Regions from separate parts of the Homo sapiens genome. Here region 2 is linked to region 1. Evidence: fine-mapped expression QTL. A gene starts in region 1. The other region holds a variant in brackets. All regions are shown on one strand. Distances are between the middles of the regions.

Region 1 (2,914 bases):
CGCCTTGGCCTCCCAAAGTGCTGAGATTACAGGTGTGAACCACTGCACCTGGCCAAAAACTGTTCTTTTTAAAAATTGAGATATAGGCTGGGCATGGTAGCTCATGCGTATAATCCCAGCACTTTGGGAGGCCAAAGCAGAAGGATCACTTGAGCCCAGGAGTTCGAGAACAGCCTGGGCAACATAGTGAGAACTCGTCTCTACAAAAAAATACAAAAATTAGCTGGGTATGGTGGCTCACACCTGTAGTCCCAGATACTCAGGAGGCTGAGGTGGGAGGATTGCTTGAGCCTGGGAGGTCAAGGCTGCAGTGAGCTGTGATTGTACGACTGCACTCCAGCCCGGGTGACAGAGTGAGACCCTGCTTCAAAAGAAAAATAAAATAAAAATAAAAATAGAGATATAATTTGCACAGCATAATATCCTTTTAAAAGTGTACATTCAGTAGATTTTAGTATATTCACAATGTTGTGCAACCATCATCACTATTTTATCACCTCAAAAAGAATTCCTGCAGCCATTAAGCCGTCACTGTCCTTTCCCTCCCTCCCCAGCTCCTGGCAACCATAAATCTGTCTCTATGCATTTGCCTATTCTGGATATTTCATATAAATAGAATCATACACTATGTGGCCTTTTGTGATTGACTTTTTTCACTCAGCTTGTTTTCAAGGTTTATCTATGATGTAGCCTGTATCAGTAGTTAATTGCTTTTCATGACTGAATAATATTCCACTGTATGGATATGCTACATTTTGTTTATCCATTCATCACTTGGACATTTAATTTGTTTCCTTTTTTTGCCTGTTATGAATAATGCTGCTATGAACACTGACATACAAGTTTTTGTGGGGGTATGTTTTCAAATCCCTTTCGTGTATATACCTAGGAGTAGAATTGCTGGGTCATATGCAAAGCTAATCATTTCTTGAACATTTACTAACACTGTAGGTATGACCCAGAAGGAGACATGTAACCTGCCTAGGCCTCAGTTTCTTCCTTAGTAAAACAGGGATGGTAACAGCACCCATTTTATAAGGTAGTGAGAATTAAATAAAATAATGCATCCACCGCGCTTAGTACAGCATCTGGCACACAGCTGGCTAAGTAGAGTAAGTTGAATGACTAGGGAGGGGGCCTCATCTCTGACCCTTCGCTGGGCCTCCGTTGACATCTGCAAATCAGGGGAGTGGGACAAGCGGGCCCCTGCCCGACAAGCTCTGCGCCTCTCAGGCTGGCGGTCCGCTGCAGAGGCTCCTGGACACCTTAGCCACCAAGATTCTGCAGAGCGGTGTTCAGGAGGGAAGCCCTGCCCAATCCGCAGGCCTGCGACCGGGGACGCTCACCTGCAACTTCTCCCGCCACTCTTTCAACTGCCACGCAGGGCCCGGAAGTAGATCTCCTGATAGCGGAAGTAGAAACTTTTCGAGACCGGAAGTGAGTGATCGAAAGCATGGCGTCGGTGGTGTTGGCGCTGAGGACCCGGACAGCCGGTAATGGGACGCAGTAGTCAGAGCGGGGTGAGGCGGGGAGGCAGAGTGGAGCTCCAGCAGGGAGGGAAGGAGGTGACACTGATCCCCGCGGAGGACCTTGGATGCGAGGGGAAGTGTGTGGGGTACTCCAGGTTTGAGGGACGGTGTCGCTGGTCACGTGACACATCCTGGGTGGAGCCGTGAGTGAGGGCGTTTGAAGAGCACTTGTCTTTCTCCTGCCTCAGCAGCACGGACGGGTTCCTTGGCGGTTGGGGATTTGGGTGGGTCCTTTCTCTGTAGAAGTATTAGTAACATTGGCATATTGGGGTTGAAAAAATTAATCTATTGATTCAGCAGATTGAGGTCTTACTTTGTGCTAGACACGGCGGTAGGTGTTCGGAAAATCAGCAGAAAACGTGAAGACTTGGCTTCTAGCCCCCGAACGGTTCTCTCTGGTGCATAAGGCAATAAATGAACATATAAAGTAGATGTAGACTGGCAAGTGCTGTGAAGAAGGATAATGTGTGTCTGTGTGTGTGTCTTTTTTTAGATTGGACGGTGAAGGAAGGCTTCTGAGGAGATAACATTTAAAACCTAAAGAATGACAGGCGGGGCGTGATGGCTCACGCCTGTAGTCCCAACACTTTGGGAGGCCTAGGTGGGCGGATCGCTTGAGCCCAGGAGTTCAAGACCGACTGGGCAACATGGCAAAACCCCATCTCTACAAAAAATACAAAAATTAGCTGGGTGTAGTGGCGCTTGCCTGTGGTCTCAGATACTCAGGAGGCTGAGGTGGGAGGATCACCTGAGCTCGGGAGGTCGAGGTTGCAGTGAGCTATGTTCATACCACTGCACTCCAGCCTGGGTGACAGAATGGGGCCCTATCCCCCCCCCCCAAAAAAAAAAGAATGACAGGAGACCTAGACCTGTGTAGAGTGAGGGACAGGAGAGTGACTTGAGCCAGTTTTACATTTTGAGAAGCAAACTATTGCTCTTATGTAAATTTAAAGGGGATAGGAGTGGAAATGAGGAAATCAAATGGAAAGTCGTAATAGCCCTGAGGAGAGATGATTTAGCCAAGATGTTTGTGGTGGCAGTGAACTTGGAGGAAAACGGATGAATTTGAGATCTGTTTTGGAGTTAGCATCCACAGAGCTTGCTGGTGAACAATATGTGAGGACAGCAAAGAGAAGGAATCTGCAATGACTCTGGTTTCTGCCTAAGCAACTGGATGAATGGTGGTACCATTTACTTTGAGGAGGAGGATGGGGAGTAGGGTGAAGAGCAAAGATTTGTGAGTGAGATAATGTAAGTAAAGTAAAAGCCCAGCTCCTGAGCTTAGTAAGTATGTAAATGAATGAATAGATGTTTAAAGGTAGGTAGATCCTGGCGCCGGGCATGTTTTAACATGTTGTCTTTCTGAGTCCTTATCTCTGGTCCTT
Region 2 (2,914 bases), 520 kb before region 1:
TCGTGGGCTATTGATGTATTTATTTATTTATTGAGACGGAGTCTCACTCTGTCGCCTAGGCTGGAGTACAGTGGCTCAATCTCGGCTCACTGCAACCTCCGCCTCCCGGGTTCGAGGGATTCTTGAGCCTCAGCCACCTGAGTAGCTGGGATTATGGGCGCCAGCCACCATGCCTGGATAATTTTTGTATTTTTAGTAGAGATGGGTTTCTCCATGTTGGCCAGGCTGGTTTTGAACTTCTGGCCTCAAGTGATCTGCCTGCCTCAGCCTCCCAAAGTGTTGGGATTACAGGCATGAGCCACCGCACCTGGCCAATTAGGAGTTTTTTAGATGTCAAGTCTCAGGCAGACCTTGGTGCCTTATTGGCAGGAAATTGAAAGCCTATAGGTACTAGGTGGTGGAGGATTTGACCAGTTCTGCCACAGTGGGTTCTTCTAAAGCCAGCTCCCAGGACAGGGGCCATTCTTTCCTTATGAATGACCAAGACCATACTGGCTATTTCAACCGACTAGCGTTTTCTTCCTATTTATAATCAATAGCATCATTTTCAGCATCCTGGTTCTTCTTTTTTATGTAAAATAAAATAAATAGCGTCCCTCAAATCACACTTTTTTTAAAATCACACCTTCTTTAAATCTCATACACCATCTATATGCAGGACTCAGAGATCATCCCCCTTAGCCCCAGGCAGCTTGACTGTCATTTGGATAAAGCTAGGAAAGAATGAAGGATGTAATTGGGTGTTAGTAGGTATGAGAGCTCTGAAGGAGAGGTGCCTGCAAAGTTCCAGGCAAAGTCAGCCTCCAGGTAGGCAGCCAGAGTCCAGGGAACACATATTTGCTGAAGGTTTGTAGAAGTCCATGGGTCAGATTCCCAGCAGCATTGGGAAAAGGGACATTTAGCAGCAGTGACAGAGAGAGTTCGAAATGGAGTTTCCTTCTACCTTAGCGGAGAAGCACTTTCATGAGCTTCCATTTAAGATAGCAACTAATCTCATGATACGACCTGCAGAAACCTGTAGCAAGGGAGCCATTGGAACTGGTATTCAGTGGGATCTGTCAGAGCTCAGAGCTGGGAGGGCCAAATCCAGAAATCTGGCAGACAGTAAGTGGGCAAGAGGTCAAAACAGGGAAGGAGTTCATTAGCACATGCAAAGGCTTAGATTGAGCTTGGCTCAAAGTGCATGCCCTGTAAGTGCCCTTGTGGTGGCTGATGGCAAGGATGATGGTGTTATTTTGGCAGCCAGGATCTGGGTTTCAGGGACAGGATTTCTTAGTTTCTTAGAGCAGAGGTGACCAGACTGGGATTTGATGCTTTATCAAAATTTTTTGGGCAGGATGCGGTGGCTCACGCCTTTAATCCCAGCACTTTGGGAGGCCGAGGCAGGCAGATCACTTGAGGTCAGGATTTTGAAACCAGCCTGACCAACATGGAGAAACGCTGTCTCTACTAAAAATACAAAAATTAGCCAGGTGTGGTGGCGCACACATGTAATCCCAGCTACTCAGGAGGCTGAGGTAGGAGAATTGCTTGAACCTGGGAGGCAGAAGTTGCAGTGAACTGAGATTGTGCTACTGCACTCCAGCCTGGGTGACAGAGTGAGACTCCGTCTCAAAAAGAAAAAAAGAGAAAAAAATTTCCTCAAATCTGGGAACCAATATTGTCAACTTTAAATTTAGCCAAGTGAGGCAATTCCTTTTTTTCTTGGAGACACCATCTCTGTCACCCAGGCTGGAGTACAATGGCACAATCTCAGCTCACTGCAACCTTTACCTCCCAGGTTCAAGCGATTCTCCTGCCTTAGCCTCCCAAGTAG[G/C]TGGGATTACAGGTACGTGCCACCATGCCTGGCTAATTTTTGTGTTTTAGTAGAGATGGGGTATCAGTATGTTGGCCAGGCTGGTCTCGAACTCCTGACCTCAGGTGATCTATCCACCTTGGCTTCCCAAAAATACTAGGATTACAGGCATGAGCCACTCACTGCTCCCGACCTAGTGAGGCAATTCAAACAACCAAAAAAAGCCCTATCACCTCCCATCACCATGTCTTCATAAAAGAAAAGCCATCTTATCACCAAAAGTAAAACAGCCATCATATCAGAATTTAAACTAGAAACAAAAATTAACGTTATTAAAAGCTCACTTATGTTTTGTTGTTGTTGTTGTTTCCAGTTTGTAGCTGATGGACAAAAACTTTGTCATGGATCAGCGCTGATGGGTAGAGTTTAGGATGCATTCATGCCCAGGGCTCCTCTGCCCAGGCTTGGGGCTACCTTGTGGGGCTTGGTTGTGAGGACCATGGCCAAGGCTGGGTGGCCAGGGACGAAGTATCTGTCCTGGCCTGAGCACCTGTGCTGACCTAGCCCATCCACGCCATCACAGTGGGCACCTTTGCTGTCCTTCTGGGAATTCTCCCAGTCACTAGTGAGGGTGATAGCTTTCCCACTTCTGGCCCAACCTGCTCCCACTCCATTCCAGGGCCCCCTGGGTCATCTCCCACTTACAGCCCTCCTCTCGCCTTTGGGATCTGACACCTGAACTCGCTTTCTGCAGTTTGCCCTTTGGCATTCTTCAAGGGCTTTGGCTGATCCTGCCTTCTGGCTGCTCCTGCTCCTCCTGCCTGATCCCCACCTCTGGACCCCAGCCTGGGCTGTCCTCAACTGTCTGGAAACTACTCAGAATGTTAGATCTTGAATCACCTCTTGCAGCCACCACAGTGTGGACTCAATCCTTTTTCCATTCATGTTCTCCTGTTCTGCAACTGGGCTGAAATGACTGCATGGCGATGAGGGAGAGAAGACTGAGTCTCAAGTGGGGACGCAATTTGTGGAAAACAATAGGCCCCAGGGCAAGGAGCGAAATGGGCAATTAGCCCAGGTCTGTGTTGAAGTCAGTCTCTTGGACTTACCTGGAAGCTC

Direction of the effects. Alleles are on the strand shown, and positions count from the first base shown. SD is a standard deviation of normalised expression in the study named.
For the expression in testis of the gene that starts at base 1,395 in region 1, allele C in region 2 goes with a higher level than allele G (small effect, 0.29 SD a copy in GTEx).

The links.
Region 2: its variant is fine-mapped to the expression of EME1 in testis (GTEx, PIP 0.97).

What each region holds. Positions count from the first base shown.
Region 1 is chr17:50,371,710-50,374,623 of GRCh38, reverse strand. EME1 (essential meiotic structure-specific endonuclease 1) reads right to left here and starts at 1,395. Exons shown (of 9, transcript NM_152463.4): 1 at 1,347-1,395. MRPL27 (mitochondrial ribosomal protein L27) reads left to right here and starts at 1,440. Exons shown (of 4, transcript NM_016504.3): 1 at 1,440-1,493. The coding sequence starts at 1,454. RefSeq lists enhancers at 1,077-1,296, 1,437-1,906.
Region 2 is chr17:50,887,834-50,890,747 of GRCh38, reverse strand. It overlaps LOC105371825 (a long non-coding RNA gene), which reads left to right. Exons shown (of 3, transcript XR_001752940.2): 3 at 2,169-2,914. Among named protein-coding and RNA genes, the nearest start is that of TOB1-AS1, 23 kb to the right of the region's middle. The variant G/C (reference allele first, on the strand shown) is at 1,817.